Regions from separate parts of the Homo sapiens genome. Here region 2 is linked to region 1. Evidence: fine-mapped expression QTL. A gene starts in region 1. The other region holds a variant in brackets. All regions are shown on one strand. Distances are from middle to middle.

Region 1 (9,674 bases):
ATTATTGAAACATAGTAATAGCAATACAGTATCTTATTTTCCACTTTTAGAATAGAAAAATAATAGAGGTGATAGTATATCTTGACCAGAAATTAATTCAATTAATTATTATCTTGACCAGAAATTAATTGGAAAGAAGCAATTTGGCATTTCCATAACCATGTTTTTCATTGTACCATACTTTCTGTATATGCTTATATAAAGTACAAACATAATTTTTTCTTGTATTCTCACATAGCATTAACCTATACTAGCATCTCCTGAGTGGGGTCTGGTTTGGGGGCTTTTAACTAGCATTGCATCCTAGAATTATCTGTGGAGCTTTTAAAAAGAGCACATTCCTATCTCTGAGGCAAGACTTACCCAATCAGAATCTCTGGGTCTGGAAACCAGACGTGTGTATTTTGAAAAAGCTCCTCAGGTGGCTCAATTGTAAAACGAGGATTGTGAGTCATCGGCCTAGGTCAGTCACTTAGCTCTTTTGTAAACTAGAAGCCAGGCTCCTATTCCTAGTCTTTTGATCTAGTTGGGGCTACCCAGAAAATTTGTTAAAAAATAACAAAAGTCATCTGAATTAGATAACTAAGTAATTGGTTAACCAACATAAACAAAATGAATGCATTCATCAAACATTTACTGGGTACTGCCTCTGCTCCAGGCTCAGTATCAGGCATGGGGATTCCGCTCTACCCTGAGAATATTCTCAGCCTACAAGTGTGTGAACTATTTAAATGTGGCTGCTCTCAATTTATATTAGCTACTAAGAGAAAGGCAACAAACACCTACTTCAAAGACTTACTTGCACAATACTATGGCATACAAGGACTCTCCCACATGAATCAGCCAGGCAAGCCAATACCTGAAACCAAAAAAAAGGTTAATCTTTTTTAAGGTGATAGTTATCTGCTGATGAAATCTAACACAGCAATCTCAAAAAGAAAAGTGCCTTAAGGTGAACCGACACTACTCTTAGATACCAAAAGGCAGCTGCAGGCCTTCCAGGTTTCCCATGAGACCAGAGCTCCAGTGTCCACAGTCCACTTGTGCAGCTCTCCTTACCCATTGCACAGGAGGGTGTGATGGTGGTCCACCAAGTACTGAGTGAAGGGGCCCAGGGGCCCAAGGTTCTGATAAGGGATACTCTGAGGCCAGAAGACAACCCACTGAAAGAGAAGCAGAGACACAGAATACCTATTAGGTCACTTAAAACCTGTTTTTTGTTTTTGTTTTTGAGAAAGGCTGTGAAACAGTAAAAAAATTACCACAGACCGAAGAAACTCTGAACAGTCATTTGGGTCTCCATTCTTGGCTTCTATTTTCTTTCTTTCTTTTTTTTTTGACAGGGTCTCACTCCGCTGCTGGGGCTGGAGTGCAGTGGCATGATCATGACTCACTGCAGCCTCCACCATCTGGGCTCAATCCATCCTCCCACCTCAGCCTCCCAAGTAGATGGGACTACACGTGTGTGCCACCATGCCCAGCTACTTTTAAAAATTGTATATAGAGATGGGGTCTCACTATGTTGCCCAGGATGGTTTCCAACTCCAGGGCTCAAGCAATTCTCCAATCTTGGCCTCCCAAAGTGCTGGGATTACAGGCATGACCTACTGTGCCAGGATGACTTCTATTTTCTAAAAGCAACTCTACTGGGAGACTTATGCTGAGGAAAGTATGTGGTTATCAGACTCAGTGCCCACGGTGGATGACTCTTAAAGTCTTTTTTTCTTCCTTTTCTTCTTTTGTTTTCTTTGTAGAGAAGGGATCTCGCTTTGTCACCCAGGCTTGAGTGCAGTGGCCTGATCACGGCTCACTGCACCCTTGACTTCCCGGGCTCAAGCGATCCTCCCAACTCAGCTTCCCCAAGTAGCTGGAATACAGGCATGGCTACCACGACTGACTAATTTATTTATTTATTTATTTATTTTAGATGGAGTTTCACTCTGTCGCTTAGGCTGGAGTGCAGTGGCACGATCTCGGCTCTCTGTAACCTCCGCCTCGCGGATTCAAACGACTCTCCTGTCTCAGCCTCCAGAGTAGCTGGGACTACAGGTGCATGCCACCACGCCCAGCTAATTTTTGTATTTTTAATACAGACAGAGTTTCACCATGTTGGCCAGGCTGATCTCCAACTCCTGACATCAGGTGATCCGCCCTTCTCGGCTTCTCAAAGTGCTGGGATTACAGGTGTGAGCCACTGCCCATGGCTAATTTTGTGTGTGTGTGTGTGTGTAGAGATGAGGTTTTGCCATGTTGCCCAGGATGGTCTCGAACTCCTGGGCTCAAGCGATTTGCCCGCCTCGGCCTCCCAAAGTGCTGGGATTACAGGGGTGAACCACCATGCCTGGCTGACTCCTATTAATACATTCCACCAAAACCATTATTTTATAAAAGATATTAGCAAATTTTGAGTTTATGTGCTTTGGCTAGTTTCTTTACTGCAGAAACTGGCTCCAGCCAAACCTCTGTTTAATTTAGAATTCCTTTCTCGGCTTTCCCTTTTTGTACGGCTAAAACTGAGAATGATCCACTGCATAGAGATGGAAAATAAGTGAGATAAGGTTGTGACATTTTAATAGCAACTGCTTAATCACATAAATTTTTCGTAATCTTAACTTTCAGCCTCTGTATTGTAACTTCTGTCAGCTAAGACTTTTCTGAGAATAACTCAACAGTTTCAAAATGTATTGTCCCATTCAAATCTTTGTCAAGAGCAGTACTACCTCTCTCACGATGTTGTTTCACATCTGAAAGTTAAATAATGCACAAATATCACTGCATCCTCCCAAACCAAAGGGAAAGGGGAGCATCTGCCAGCTCCACAAGATCCCAATTTGAAGTCCCCAAAGCTTTCCTCCAACTATATTCTAACTAGTCACAGACACTAAATCGTAGAACAGAAATGCACCTTTGAAAATTTTCAGTTCAACACCTCCATTGTACATATGGGGAAATCAGGACATAGGTTGTCAGATTTGACACCAACAAACAACACTGTGGACAAGACAAATCTCCAATCTCCAGGATCTATTGGTATACCCAAATAGCTTCGCCTTCCTTCAAAATTTTACCACCTTATCACTTGACGTTAGGAGTTCGAGGCCAGCCTCACCAATACCCATGTCTACTAAAAACACAAAAAAATAGCTGGGCATAGTGTAATCCCAGCTACAGGTAAAGACATGAGAATCGCTTGAACCTGGGAAGCAGAGGTTGCAGTGAGCCGAGATCGCCCCACTGCACTCCAGCCTGGGTGACAGAGCGAGACTCCGTCTCAAAAAAACACAAAACTACCACCTTAGCCCCCAACCTACTTTTCCACGCATCTTTCTCGTTATCCTTTAAACAGATTATTTCTCAGCCAAACAAACGTCGCTCTTTTTCTAGGTACAGCTTTCTTCTTGCTTCCACACCTATGTCAGAACAGTTATAGCCTCTTTATCCTCCCTTACCACTTAAATCCTACCCATCCTTTAGATTTATCCCCGTTTTCCAAACAATTCCTATTGGCTCAAACATTCTGCTTCGGAAGCCCTATTCTGACTTGGCAGGCCTATGGCAGTCTGTTAACTTGACTTTCCGCTTCGTGAGAGGCTTAGGCTCGGATAACCCGTTAGTAACCATGCAGAGGTGAGGACCCAAAGACAGGAACACTAGAAAGCAGAAACTATCCTAAGAGCCCACCGAATTTCCGCTTACATGAGTAACCGAGACAACCGTCAGATGCGCGTGCGCACAGGCCCCGTTCCCAGAGCTCCCCTCGCCCTACGAGGGCCCGGCGGGCCAAAACAGAGGCCCGCCCCGCCCCACCCCACGCCTCACCGCGAAGTAGCCCAGCCCCAGGACTGTGACCAGAGAGGGCAAGGGTCTTGCTGGACGGAAATAGGCGGTAGCCGCATTGCTGGCCTCCGACTTCACCATCCTCTTGAAAAACCCAGACACAGAGTTGGCTGGGAGCTCCCCAGCCGTCCCCGCCCCCATATAAGAAAAGCCTGGCTAGCCGGTTTCTCAGGGCCCTGGGCGCCCGCCCAAGACCCTGGCGGACCAGTATGCTTGCTCTCATTGCGGAGTCTGGTCCCCTCCCCTCCGCTCCTAGCGCGCGGGAGTCGGGATTGTGCTTGCACGACTTCCCCCGGCCCGCGGCCTGTGAGCCCAGGTCCTGGGGTGAACCGAGCGCTCGCTCGTTCGTCAGACCGTAGCGCTCCAGCGGCTGTCCTTACTGTGTAGTAGCCAAAGCTGAGGGTGATGACTGTGAACCAGAACAGACTGCCTCGCTGAAAGTAGGTCGCGCCGGCTGCCGTAGCCATGGCTGCAACACCTCCCCGGGAGCGCGCTTCAGGACACCGTCGAGCGCGAGCGCGGAGGCAGGGCCGGGGCCGGCCCGCGCTCCCTCGCCATCCCCGCAGGGAGAAGATGGTGCTGGTTGGGAAGTCCCTGAGAGCGAGTCTCCCTGTCTGGCCCCAGTACAGGGGCCTTGGAATCACACCTGGGCTCAGGTCTGGAGGGCTGGTCATCATCTTGTAGGGGAGACACTCCTGTCACTTTTCTGGGTTTAAGATAAAGATGTTCGGGCTGGCGCGGTGGCGTGTCCCTGTAATCTCAGCACGTTGGGAGGCTGAGGTAGAAAGATCCCTTGAGCCCAGGAGTTTGAGACCAGCCCGGGTAACATAGCTAGACTCTGTCTCGAATGAATGAATGAATGAATGAGGTGTTGGAATAAATTCCAGCAATTTGGGAGGCCGAGTCGGGCAGATCACTTGAGGTCAGGAGTTTGAGACCAGCGTGGTCAACATGGTGAAACCCCGTCTGTACTAAAAATACAAAAAATTTGCTGGGCGCGGTGGTGCCTGCCTGTAGTCCCAGCAACTCCAGAGGCTGAGACAAGACTCTCTTGAACCTGAGAGGTGCAGGTTGCAGTGGGCCCAGATCACGCCACTGCACTCCAGCCTGGGCAACACAGCAAGACCCTGTCTCAAAAAAAAAAAAAAAAGATGGTGTTTTACTAAGAGTCTAATTTTTGAAGTTCTCTGTGCTGTGCACCTTGAGAAATAATGCTGTCCTCATTAGTTAAGATGTTTGGAACTATACAGCACCATGGTTATGAGCAGGGACTGTGAAACAGGCTGCCTGGATTTAAGTCCTGGCTCTGTCTCGGCTATTTGTGTAAGCTTAGATTAATTACTTAGCCCGGCTGTGTCTTAGTTTCTGTATCTGTAACATGAGGATATGCCAGTTTTGGGAACCTCAGGGTTTTTAGGGTGGGTTAAATGAGTTGATATCTGTAAAGAAAGCACAGCAGTGTCTGGCCCATAGTGCTTTGTAAGTGTGGGTGATTATCAATACTGCTGAGCCTTTAGCATGTGTGCCAGGCCCTGTGCGAACTGTTGTATCATCAATGAGCTGTGGGAGGTATATGCAGCTGAAGTGTCTGATTAAACACTATTTAATCATAGAAATAGAAAATCATAGAAATAGAAAAACTATTTCACCTGGGCCTTAAAAATGGGTTACTGGCCAAGCGCAGTGGCTCAAGCCTATAATCCTGGCACTTTTGGAGGCCGAGGTGGGTGGATCGCTCAGGAGTTCGAGACCACCCTGGAGAACATGGTGAAACCCTGTCTCTACTAAAATACAAAAAATTAGCTGGGGGTGGTGGCGCGTGTCTATAGTCCCAACTACTTGGGAGGCTGAGGCACGAGAATTGCTTGAGCACCGGAGGCGGAGGTTGCAGTGAGCCGAGATCCAATCACTGCACTTCAGCTTGGGCTATAGAGTGAGACTCCGTCAAAAAAAAAAAAAAAAAGTTACTATACTGTAGCTGGTATTTATTGAACACCTACTATGTTCAAGGCATTGTTCTAAGTACTATACAATAATTAACTAATTTAATTCTTAAAACAATCCTAGGCAGTAAACTATTGTCCTTATTTCAAAGAAGAAGAAACAGCACAGGGTCCTGTCATGCCCAAGTGGGTGAGGAATACTGGAAAACAATTGGCAGCTGAGTGTTCCAGTTCCAGAGAGGGCACTCTGGAACCAACCAAGGTTCTCTTTCCTCATTTTTTACGTGAGTATCTTGGGATATAAAGTCTTAAAGAATGAATTTCAGAATATGTGAGGAAATCCATTTCCCAGGTAGACCACAGTGCTCTTGAATATCAAGATTAACAGTAACAATTGTAACAATTGGTGTTTTCTTAGTCCTTATCATCCTTGATCACACCACCCTCTTTATTCTTCTCCTCCTTCTGAATAACTCCTTGTTTTCTCAGCTTTCCTTTTCTTTCTTCTCTCCTAGAATAAGTTTTGCTTATTATCTTCTTTGTGTTTTCAGTACCTATCAGATTCAATTTTCACCTTCAGCTGACTAAAATAATCTCTTCAGCCCTCACCTCTTCCCAGTTGGTCACCTTTACCAAAGATTACTCACACCTCAAAGACAAGAAGTCCATTATCATTATCCACAGAGTCCATCCTCACCAAGGCTACCCTGTCTGTGGTTTTTTTTTTTTTTTTTTTTTTTTTTGAGATGGAGTTTTGCTCTTGTTGCCCAGGCTGGAGTGCAGTGTTGCGATCTCGGCTCACTGCAACCTCTGCCTCCCCACTTCAAGTGATTCCCCTGTCTCAGCCTCCTGAGTAGCTTGGATTACAGGTGTGCACCACCACGCTTGGCTAATTGTGGAGACGGGGTTTCACCATGTTGGCCAGGCTGGTCTCGAACTCCTGACCTCAGGTGATCTGCCTGCCTCGGCCTCCCAAAGTGTTGGGATTACAAGTATGAGCCACCTCGCCCGGCCTACTCTATGTGAACAGCACTTTCTTTCTACCTTGTACCCAGATTCCTTGCTTTGACTTCCCCCATATCATATAAAGATTGCAGACTAATCAGCTGTCAAGAGTTCTACTGATTGGGTAATACAATATCTAATCCTTCTAGATTAAATCATGGCTTCATCTCCACTGTCTCATGAGTCAGTCACTCCTTCCTACTTCCTGCCACTTCAGCCCACATGCAGTCCCTTTATTGAATCTGTCTGACAAATAACAGGATCATCTTTTTCAAGTACAGTTCTGATCAAGCCTTTACCATACCAAAACTTTTTTTTTTTTTTGAGACAGAGTCTCACTCTATTGCTCAGATTGTAGTGCAATGGCGCAATCTCAGCTCACTGCAACCTTGGCCTTCTGGGTTCAAGTGATTCTCCTGCCACACTCTCTCTAGTAGCTGGGACTACAGTCACATGCCACCACACCCAGCTAATTTTTTGTATTTTTAGTAGAGATGGGGTTTCGCCATGTTGACCAGGCTGGTCTCAAACTCCTGACCTCAGGTGATCCACCTGCCTTGGCTTCCCCAAGTGCTGAGATTACAGGTGTGAGCCACCATACCCAGCCTACCTTACCAAAAGTTTCAAGAACTTCCCCAATTTTAGGCTGCCGTTTTTCAGTATTTCTATTTAGGTATTAAATCTGCAACGAGGGAGATATTGGAGAAATTATTCATGCTACAAGAAATGTTGGAGAGGCAAAATGGCTTCAGTCAACAGACTACAGGGAGCTAGGTTTTAGTTTCATGTCTTCTACAACCCTGCTTGGAGCCCAGCCTGTTACTTAGTGTCCTATGTCTTCCAACTCCACACTATTTTTTTTTTTTTTAATAGAGACGGTGCTTCACTATGTTGCCCAGGCAGATCTCAAACTCCCAGCCTTAAGTAATCCTTCCACCTCAGCCTCCCAAAGTGCTGGGATTATAGTTAGAGGCTGTACCTGGCCACCAACAGCTCAACACTAAACATCTTACTGTTAGCCCCTCACGCACAGATAAGGAATCCAGAAGACAGTACCAGAAGATCTTTGTTCAGATGTGAGTAGTTTATGTAAATTCATGAAGAACTTACAGTCAACTGGATGTTCAGAAGGCATTCCTTTCTTCATTACAGTCACCCTTCACACACGGCAGGGGTGACTGAATTCTCTAAGGTCCAGGCACCCTACACTGCTGTCCCATCTGAATTGGCAGAGAAATATCTCATCCCTGGACATTTTTATCCCCCTGTCTAGATGGATTAGTGACCTAAATATGAAAAATAATGAAGAAAGTCTGGGAGAATAGTTTTACAACTTTTGAGGGAGGGGAAGGAAACCTTTTAGCAAGTTATTAAAATTAAAAGCCATAGAAGGAAAGATTGAAAATTTAACTGCATCCAGATGAAAAGCTTCATTCATATGAATGACACTGTAAATAAAGTTGAAATACCTGGAAGAAGGAATTCTCCAATATATGTAATTGACAAATGATTAAAGGATATGAATTGGGCATCCTCAAAAGAGAAAACTTGAGACCAAGCAAAATGAAAGGATGGTTCAATCTTAATGGCCCTATGGGATACGCAAAATAAAGCAAAAATAACATTGTTTTTCCTCATAAGATTGGCCTACTAGATATCAAGACACACTGTAAAGAGCTATAATAATGTAAAACATTTGGCACTTGACATGCAGAAATCAACAAATGGATCAATGAAAAAATAATGCAGACTCCAGACATGGATCTGGTATATACATATCCAAGCGTTTATTTTATAATAAAGGTAACATTTCAAATTAAGGAAGGAATAATGGATTATTCAGTAAATTATTTTGGGGCAATTAGTTATCTATTCCAGAAAAAATATTTTAAATAATACTGTCCACTCCCAAACACAAATACACAAATGATGCAGTATCAAGAGATACAGAGGTATTAATAAGTAGTCCTCCTTGGGGAGTTATGATGAGGTGGCTATAGGATGGACAAGTGCTGAGATACAGCAAAAAACTCCCACACCTTCCCAGGATTATAGGATGGGGGAAGGGCGACCTAAACAAATTTACAGAAATTTGAATAGAATATTGTGTGTCCAGGGAATTAGGAGAAATTTTTTGTTGCTAGAAAAAAACAATGTGAAGAAATTGAGTGAAGGAAGTTGAGGCTGCAAAGACAGGTGGAGTCCTGATCATGAATGGCATTTGGTATCAAACCGAGGGGTTTTGATTTGATCCCTTAGCCAAGGTGAGTCAGTGAAATTCTGTTTGTTTTATTTAATTAATGTATTTATTATTTGTAGAGACGAGTCTCCCTATGTTGCCCAGCTGGTCTTGAACTCCTGGGCTCAAGTGATCCTCCTGCCTCAGCCTCCCAAACTGCTGGGACTACAGGTCAGGCTTGGGCCACCATGCTGAGCTAATTATTATTATTATTATTATTATTATTATTATTATTATTATTTTTAATAGAGATAGGGTCTCGCTATGTAGCCCAGGCTGGTTTTGAACTCCTGAGCGCAAGCTATCCTCCCACCTTGGCCTCCCAAAATGCTGGGATTACAGGCATGAGCAACCATACCTGCTCTGTTTGTTTTAACTAGTGGAGTGAACATATCTTGTGTACATTGGATGGAGGTAAAATTGGAAGGAAGGAAGGAGGAGAAGAAGAAAAATTATTGAAACAGTATAATGAGAATGGAGAAGGAAAATGCTACATTTTTTAGGTAGGGAAACCAAGGAATCATTCACTCAAATAGTCAAGAAATATTTCTGAAGACCGGCTGGGCGCGGTGGCTCACGCCTGTAATCCCAGGACTTTGGGAGGCTGAGGCGGGCGGATCATGAGGTCAAGAGATGGAGACCATCCTGGC
Region 2 (9,674 bases), 47 kb after region 1:
TGACTTACACAATTGTGGGGACTGACTAGGCAGGAAAGAAATTTGTAGGGAAAGGTAAGCTGACACTCTCAGGCAGGAGCTAAAGTTGCTCTCCAGTCCCACCCGCATTACAGTGAATAATCTGTTTTGGGTAAAGCCAATTGATTTTATATATTAATCACACATGCAAAATGCATTTATAGCAACACTTGCATTCATGTTTGATGGATGAACTGCAGAGCTTAGACTAACTAACTTGACATATGGCCAGACCACCACATTGATGATGGGATAAAATACTTTTCAGGAAAAGCTGCGGAGAATGTGAAACGTATAAAGTAAGGCGAGACTCTCCATTTGTGAAATAACATGGCCAAGCCAAAATAATTAAGAAATAAAAGAACCTGAACTCAGAGAAGAAAATGCTTAAATATGTGGAAACTAGAGAGCAGAAAACCAAAGTCATATTTGGAAAAGTATCATGATAGACGAAAAATTACGTAGTAGAATCTGTACTTCTACTTAAAATTCATCTTACCCTTAATCTAATTACTTCAAAATCCTTTTAAGTGGTGTTAAATATTTAATGAAGGGATTCAGTAGAAAGGTATTTAAGAAATGGGTGTGGCCAGGCTCAGTGGCTCATGCCTGTAATCCCAGCACTTTGGGTCCGGAGGGGGGCGGGTCACCTGATGTCAGCAGTTTGAGAGATGGGTGGGCCACCCTGCGTTTTTTTGTATCTTGTGTCCCTGGCAGTTGTTCTGTGAAGTCACTAGACTCTGGAATCCAGGCCTCCCTTCCCAGTATGGATTTGGCCAAAAGTTCAAATGGTAAGTTCCTATCAGCCTGCTGGCTGTTCTCTGTGTTGATGCTAAAGGGCTTGTTTTCTAGAGTTTATGATAGTTTAAGTCACAGCTGGAGGCAGTGGCTCGAGCCTGTAATCTCATCACTTCGGGAGGCTGAGGTGGGAGAATCACCTGAGGTCAGGAGTTCCAGACCTGGCTGACCAACATGGTGAAACCCTGTTTCTACTAAAAATACAAAAATTAGCTGGGTGTGGTGACAGAAACCAGTCATCCCAGTTACTTTGGAGGCTGAGGCAGGAGAATTGCTTGAATCTGGGGAGCAGAGGTTTCAGTGAGCCGAGATCGTGCCACTGCACTCCAGCCTGGGCAACATAGCAAGACTCTGTCTCAGAAAAAAAAAAAAAAAGAATAGGAGAAGCTGAGTCTCATGGGGAAAAATCTGCCTATTTGCATGTCATGTACATTCTATAATTTTTTAAAAAGTCAAGTTGAGTTTTAGGAATACCTAGACTGATAGGTGGAAGAAAAAGAAACAATTATAGTTTCCACCAAAGTTTATTTATTTGTGCATTCTATCCCATAATCAAAATCTAATTGCAAAATCAAATACTTTATTCACTGAAAAGATTAAGTAAAATCGTGAAATTCTTATTGAGGTGTATTTGACTAAAATGGTGCTATGATTTGTTTGTCCTCTCTGAAATTCATGCTGAAACTTAGTCTGCAAAGTAACAGGATTAAGAGGTGGGTCCTTTAAGAGATAATTGGATCATGAGGTCCCTGCCTTCATGAATGGGTGAATCCATTCCTGAGTGAGTGGGTTAATGGGTGAGTAGGAATAATGGGGAGTGAATTATCATGAGAGAGGGTCTGTTATAAAAGCCTGTTCGGCTCTGTCTCCTGCGAACTTCCCTCCATGTGATGCTGTCCACCATGTTATGATGCAGGATGAGGCCCTTGCCAGAAGCCAACCAGCTGTAGCCCGTGGACTGTGGACTTCCCAGACTCCAGCACTGTAAGAAATAAATTTCATTACATGGACGTATTACATGATGAAAAAAAAAAAAAAAAAAAGGCGGGCGCGGTGGCTCATGCCTGTAATCACTGCAGCCCTGACTCTCAGCCTCAAGTGATCTTCTCACTCCAGCCTCCTGAGTAGCTGGGACTACAGGTCGCACCACCACACCAGCTAGTCGTTTTATTTTTTGTAGAGATGGGGTCTTGCTGTGTTGCCAGGGCTGGCCTCAAACTCCTGGGCTCAAGTGATCCTCATGCCTCGACCTCCCAAAGTGCTGGGATTATGGGTATGAGGCACCATGCCCCACCAGATAAACTTTAAGTAGTGATTTGGCATATACTAGGGACATTCCCTTGATTCTAAAAGGACATCTGAACCCATTGGGAAACATCTTTCTTTCATCTGGATCATCGTGTTTCTTCTCTGAAGAACAGCTGGTGCTTTGGTCTCTACCCTTGGGTGTAGGCCTAGTGATGTAAAGTAATCTTCAGACATCTCTTTTTCTTGGTTTTATGTTTTGTTCTTGTTGTTTTATTTATTTTTATTTTTTCTTTTTTTTCTTTTAATAATGGAAATGTGTCCAGATGCAAATTCAAAGTTACTGCCTTAAGAATACCAGCCCTGTCAGTGCCAGTGGGAAATCTGGTTCTGTTTTTTTTTTTCTGAGATGGAGTCTCCCTCTGTTTCCCAGGCTACAGTGCAGTGGCAAGATTTCGGCTCACTGAAAACTCTACCTCTTGAGTTCAAGCGATTCTCCTGCCTCAGCCTCCCACGTAGCCGGGATTACATATTTTTAATATATATATACATATTATATATATATTTATATTACATATATTTATATTTATAATATATTATATATAAATATATATTTATATATAATGTATATAAATATATGTTTATATTTATAAAATATATATTTATATTATGTATATATATTTTATATATATATATATATATATATATGTAGAACTCCTAGGTTCAAGCAGTGTGCTGCCTTGGCCTCCTAAAGTCTTGGGATCACAGGCTGAGCTACTGCGTCCAGCCTACGTCTTTCTTTATTTAGTTCAATTGTGTCTCCCTCTGTTTCTGCACATCACGTGACCACCTGAGCAAACATCTCCCCATGATCTTCGATGGGATAGTGAATCTTGTTTTATTGGTGTACCTCTTTAGGCTTTGAACCTGAGAGAATGACAAGCGTCTTAGAATATTTCATTTAGAAAATAAATTTTGTGCTCTTCCAATGTTCCAGGAAGTTTACTTCTGTTGAAAAAAGGGCCATAAGATGCAATTATAATAAATGTATTTCTGGGAATGTAGAGAAATACTTTTATAAGACTCTGTTCTAGATCTGGCACGTCATTGATGTCATCATTGCCCAACTGCTTTCTAGGACACTGGAGTCGAAGGCCGTGAGTCAGCCATGATGGCAGCTGAAGAAATTAATGAGGACTATCCAGTAGAAATTCACGATTATTTGTCAGCATTTGCGAATTCCATTGATGCTGTGGATGAGATGCTGAAGAACATGATGTCTGTTTCTAGAAATGAGTTGTTGCAGAAGTTGGACCCACTTGAACAAGCAAAAGTGGATTTGGTTTCTGCATACACATTAAATTCAATGTTTTGGGTTTATTTGGCAACTCAAGGAGTGAATCCTAAGGAACATCCAGTAAAGCAGGAATTGGAAAGAATCAGAGTATATATGAACAGAGTCAAGGAAATAACAGACAAGAAAAAGGCTGGCAAGCTGGACAGAGGTGCAGCTTCAAGATTTGTAAGAAATGCCCTCTGGGAACCAAAACCGAAAAATACATCCAAAGTTGCCCATAAAGGAAAAAGTAAAAGTTAACTTTTTGGATTTGATGTACACATATTCAAAAAGTACATCTCTTTTTTTCCCACAAAGTAATTCTGTGACAGAGCAAGGTTTAAATGTATTCCTTGTTGAATTAATATGTAAATTTACAGTAAATTTGTAAAGCTCAATACTTTCCTCTCCAAAGGTTGTTATCTTTATTGATTTGCACTATGAGGATTTTAACATTGTGATATATTTTATATTTACAATTTACCATCTCTTTTGAAGAGACTCTTATTTCTTTATGTAGGTCAGTCTTGCAGGTAGCATTTTCTTAGGAACTGTGAAATTTAAGTGAAATGTTCTTTGAAAATATTTGTACTATTTTCAATGAAATAACACACTTATGCCATCCACAGACACATATAAAATACTCAATAAAGGCCATTTAATGTAGCTGATTGGATGCAGTTCCAGATACAGTTAGCTACTTCCCCAATTCACTGTCTATTTCTTCTTTCTCTTATTTATTTTGAGCTCATCAGTTGTAGCAAAAGCACACACTATTTTTCCTCTGTAGTAGTGTAGACAACTGAAATGATCTCTTGGTAGAAGTTTTAATCCAGTCATTGCTTTATTTTATTTTATTTTTTATTTTAGATTTGAAGTTTCATGTGCAGGTTAGTTACATGGATATATTTGCACATACTGCAAATCAATTGTCCTGAGGTTTGGGCTTTTATTGATCCTGTCACTCAAAAAGTGAACCTAGTATCCTATAGATAGTTTTTCAACCCTTTCCTCCCCCCCTTCCTTCTCTTCTTTTGGCGTACCTAGTGTCTTTTGTTCTCATCTTTATGTCTGTGTGCACCGAGGGTTTAACTCTGAGTTATAAGTGAAAACATGCAATACTTGGTTTTTTGTTTCTGCATTAATTTTCTTAGAATAATGGTTTCTAGCTGCATCCATGTTGCTGCAAAGTCTATGATATCATTCTTTTTATGGCTGTGTAGTATTCCATGGTGTATATGTACCGCATTTTCCTTATTCAGTACACCACTGATGGGCACCTAAGTTGGTTTCATGACTTTACTATTGTGAATAGTGCTGTGATAAGCATAGGAATGCAGGTGTCTTTTGGTAGAATTATTTATTTTCCTTTAGGCATATATCTAGTAGTGGGATTGCTGGGTTGAATGGTAATTCTATTTTTAGTTTTCTTGTTTGTTTGAGACTGAGTTTCACTCTTGTTGCCCAGGCTGGAGTGCAATGGCGTGATCTCGGCTCACTACAACCTGCGCCTCCCGGATTGAAGCAATTCTCCTGCCTCAGCCTCCTGAGTAGCTGGGATTACAGGTGTGCACCACAACGCCCAGCTAATTTTGTATTTTTACTAGAGATGGGGTTTCTCCACGTTGGTTAGGCTGGTCTAGAACACCTGACCTCAGGTGATCTGCCCACCTCCACCTCCACCTCCCACAGTGCTGGGATTGCAGGGATGAGCC[A/G]CCACGCCCGGCCAGAGCAGCCTCTTTCATCACGTGCTTACTGGGTCCCAAGTGGAAGTGCCCCTGCCTCATCTGCAACAGTGCACTGGGGAGGGGAAATGAGAGGCAAGAGATGACACCCTCTCCATGTCCATTCCCAGGCTCTTATGGTGACTCCTTCAGTGACTAGTGCTGTGGCCATGTTTCTTTTGTTCCAAAGGTGGCTTTGGTGGGCTGCACTCCCCCAACCTTGAGGGGACTGCACAGAGGGTTATGACACCAAGGGATCCGCAACTCCCCAGTGACATCTCTGTGGTCCCCTGTGCTTCCTAGAGTCAAGTGGGTTGTGGGGTATGTCTGTGGGCAGTTAGGCAATGCAGTGGCACCAGTGGTGTACAACTGTTATGCTACCTGTGACCTGGGGTTATCAGCCCTGCATGTGGCCGTGAGGCCTGCCCAGCTCATGCTCTCCTGACCTGGTGAGTCTCCCTCTGGCATTCGCAGTGGCAGCAGGCCCAACTGGCTAGGCTTGGGAGGCAGAGGTTGCAGTGACCCGAGTGCACTGCACTCCAGTGTGGGCGACAGAGCAAAACTTCTTCTCAAAAAAATAAAATAAAATAAAATAATCAAGTCAAATAAAAAAAACTATAAGCTACATTTCTCCCAAAGTCAGCAGCTTGATCTATGTCCAGGAATGACTGAACATAGCTTGGAGGTTAGAAACAAGATAGAGTCAATTATGTCAGACTCAAATTACTGTCATAATTTTGCAAAGGTGGTTTCAAAAGGTGGCCCTGTCTTTGGAGCCAAAAATGGGGAGTTAGTGCCTAGAGGCAGAATTGGGATTGGCTTGTCATTACTTGAGATTGTATTTTAGCTTTGGAGAGAAAGGTCTGAGCCTGGTTCTGGTGGGAATGTTGGGCCTCATTCCCTAGCAGGAGCAACTGGGACTTTGTGCAAGTTGGGAGTCTGAAATGAAGCTCTAAGGATGACCCCAAGCTCTCCAGAGGAGAAGGACGTCTTGTGGCTGAAAGTGACACTCAAATGAAGATGATGGGAGCCAAGGGGCCATGGTGGGGTGAGAGAAGAGCAGTCATGCCTTCCTCTTTCCAGGAGAGGGCAGCTCTAGACAAACATCCTGTTTGTACCTCTGAGCTAAGATGGCTTCTGAAACCAGAGCCGAGACACGTGGCTGGAAATCTCCTGCCAGCTGCTTGAAAGGGGCACCCTACAGAGACCACTGGCTTTGGGCTTAGAAACTACCCAACTGAGACACAGTTATTTTCAACCAGTGAGGTCTGAACCAGTTTCAATCCTCATTTGCATGTACAGACCATATTGACGTCTAGGGCAGGACCTTTCCCTAGACCTCTTTTTGTTCTTTGGAGCTCAATTTTTGTCTTACACTGGAGCCTGTGTCTCCCCGATCCATAGATCTTTTTGTTTATTTATTGTTATAGACAATAAAGCCTTTAGGCCGGGTGCAGTAGGTCATGCCTGTAATCCCAGCACTTTGGAAGGCTAAGGCGGGCAGATCACTTGAGCTCGGGAATTTGAGACCAGTCTGGACAACATGGTGAAACCCCATCTCTACAAAAAATATAAAAATTAGCCTGGTGTGGTGATCCATGCCTATAATTTCAGGGGCTCAGGAGGCTGATGCTGGAGAATTGCTTAAGCCCAGGAAGCAGAGGTTGCAGTGAACCAAGAACGTGCTGCTGCACTCCAGCCTAGGTGAGAGTGTGAGACCTGGTCTCAAAAAACGGAAAAAAAAAAAAAAAAGAAAAAAAAAAGGGCTTTTTCTTTTTCTTTCACTGACCTCATGGTCTCTTGCTAACAGGAGTTGATAATTTGTGTTTGGTTCCAAACAAAGGAGTATGTACCCCACACAGAGTCTCCAGGGCTCACAGCGTAGTCCCTCCACTCTCCAACCAGCTCCAGCTGGAAACCAAGGTTGGAGAGAAGTAGAAGGGTGGCAGGTGGCAGTCCAGGTGCAGTGGGGAGCCTGCTGTGGGGATATGGATAGTTTGGATAGTCCCTGGTCATCTCATGGTGTCTCCTTAAAGGAACTAGCCTGCCCCTCTGCGGCCTCCCCTGTCCAGTTGGAGTCCAGATATGCACAGCTTTCAGGTGAATAAAATATTCACTCTTTTGAAAAGTGGGTTATAGTTCTTAGCTCAGATATGATGTGGCCAAGAGAAATTCCTATAGGAAATTTCACTGGTGTTTCTATCAACTTACAGTGCTCCATCTGGATCTTAGATCTTCTGTCACTATATGCCCTTGGTAGCCCATCACAACAATAGTTGAAATGTCAGCTGTAGATGTGTTGATTTCTTCAAGAATAGGAGAAGCCATTTTGGGAGGCTGAGGTGGGCAGATCGTTTGAGGTCAGGAGTCTGAGACCAGACTGACCAACATGGTGAAACCCAGTCTCTAATAAAAATACCAAAAAATTAGCCAGGCGTGGTGACCTGTGCCTGTAATCCCAGCTACCTGGGAAGCTGAGGCAGGAGAATTGGTTGAACCTGGGAAGCGGAGGTTGCAGCGAGCCAAGATCATGCCACTGCACTTCAGCCTGGGCAACACAGCAAGACTCTGTCTCAAAAAAAAAAAAAAAAAGAACAGGAGAAGCTGAGTCTCATGGAGTAATATCTGCCTGTTGCCATGTCCATTCTATAATTTTTTAAAAAGTCAAGTTGAGTTTTATAAACACCTAGACTGATAGGTGGAAATAAAAAGAACTATTGTGGTTTCTACAAAAGTTTATTTCTTTGCACATTCTATCCCATAATCAAAATCTAATTGCAAAATCAAATACTTTATTCACTGAAAAGATTAAGTAAAATGGTGAAATTCTTATTGAGGTGTATTTGACTAAAATGGTGCTATGATTTGTTTGTCCTCTCTGAAATTCATGCTGAAACTTAGTCTGCAAAGTAACAGGATTAAGAGGTGGGTCCTTTAAGAGATAATTGGATCATGAGGTCCCTGCCTTCATGAATGGGTGAATCCATTCCTGAGTGAGTGGGTTAATGGGTGAGTAGGAATAATGGTGTGTGAATTATCATGAGAGTGGGTCTGTTATAAAAGCCTGTTCGGCTCTGTCTCCTGCGACTTCCCTCCATGTGATGCTGTCCACCATGTTATGATGCAGGATGAGGCCCTTGCCAGAAGCCAACCAGCTGCGGCCCAGAGACTGTGGACTTCCCAGCCTTCAGCACTGTAAGAAATAAATTTCATTACATGGACGTATTACATGATGAAAAAAAAAAAAAAAAAAAGGCCAGGCACGGTGGCTCATGCCTGTAATCACTGCAGCCCTGACTCTCAGCCTCAAGTGATCTTCTCACTCCAGCCTCCTGAGTAGCTGGGACTACAGGTCGCACCACCACACCAGCTAGTCGTTTTATTTTTTGTAGAGATGGGGTCTTGCTGTGTTGCCAGGGCTGGCCTCAAACTCCTGGGCTCAAGTGATCCTCATGCCTTGACCTCCCAAAGTGCTGGGATTATGGGTATGAGGCACCATGCCCCACCAGATAAACTTTAAGTAGTGATTTGGCATGTACTAGGGACATTCCCTTGATTCTAAAAGGACATCTGAGCCCATTGGGAAACATCTTTCTTTCATCTGGATCATCGTGTTTCTTCTCTGAAGAACAGCTGGTGCTTTGGTCTCTACCCTTGGGTGTAGGCCTAGTGATGTAAAGTAACCTTGAGATATCTCTTTTTCTTTGTTTTATGTTTTGTTCTTGTTGTTGTTTTATTTTTATTTTTTCTTTTCTTTCTTTTAATTATGGAAATGTGTCCAGATACAAATTCAAAGTTACTGCTTTAAGAATACCAGCCCTGTCAGTGCCAGTGGGAAATCTGGTTCTGTTTTTTTTTTTTTTTTTCTGAGATGGAGTCTCCCTCTGTCTCCCAGGCTGGAGTGCAGTGGCAGGATTTTGGCTCACTGCAACCTCCAGCTCCCGGGTTCAAGTGATTCTCCTGCCTCAGCCTCTGGAGTAGCTGGGATTATAGGCACCCACCACCACGCCCAGCTAATTTTTGTATTTTTATTAGACATGGGGTTTCACCATGTTGGCCAGGCTGGTATGGAACTCCTGACCTCAGGCGATTCACCTGCCTCAGCCTCCCAAATTGCTGGGATTACAGGCATGAGCCACCACGCCCAGCCCTGGTTCTGTTTTCTTGAAGATGGTTTCAACATGACCCTGTGCTTGCAGGATTGGAATATCTCACCCCTCACTGGTGAGGGACAAATCTGTGATGTCCTCTTATTCATTGAAACCAAGTGCTGTGCCTTACAATGGCCCTGAGAGGATTGATTGGTCTTCACTTTTAATTGAAAAGTACTTTAGGACATGGAAAAGTAAATCCAAAGAGGCTTTTCTTTTACCTTTCGTGCTTTTCTCTGAAAGTACAAATTATCTACCACTACTCAAGGATGAAGAAACATTTGGGTCACTCTATCTTTTCTTCCACATGTAGAAAACATTGGGGCTTTATTTCTTTATATATATATAGCTTATATATATATATATAGCTTATATATAGCTTATATATATATATATATAGCT

The links.
Region 2: its variant is fine-mapped to the expression of TMEM254-AS1 in iPS cells (HipSci, PIP 0.95).

Annotation. Positions count from the first base shown.
Region 1 is chr10:80,073,330-80,083,003 of GRCh38, reverse strand. TMEM254-AS1 (TMEM254 antisense RNA 1) reads left to right here and starts at 3,811. Exons shown (of 4, transcript NR_027432.1): 1 at 3,811-4,277. It overlaps TMEM254 (transmembrane protein 254), which reads right to left and starts at 4,339. Exons shown (of 4, transcript NM_025125.4): 1 at 4,218-4,339; 2 at 1,060-1,163; 3 at 800-859. The coding sequence starts at 4,304.
Region 2 is chr10:80,025,952-80,035,625 of GRCh38, reverse strand. It overlaps the pseudogene C1DP2. Among named protein-coding and RNA genes, the nearest start is that of TMEM254, 48 kb to the left of the region's middle. RefSeq lists an enhancer at 1-187. The variant A/G (reference allele first, on the strand shown) is at 5,113.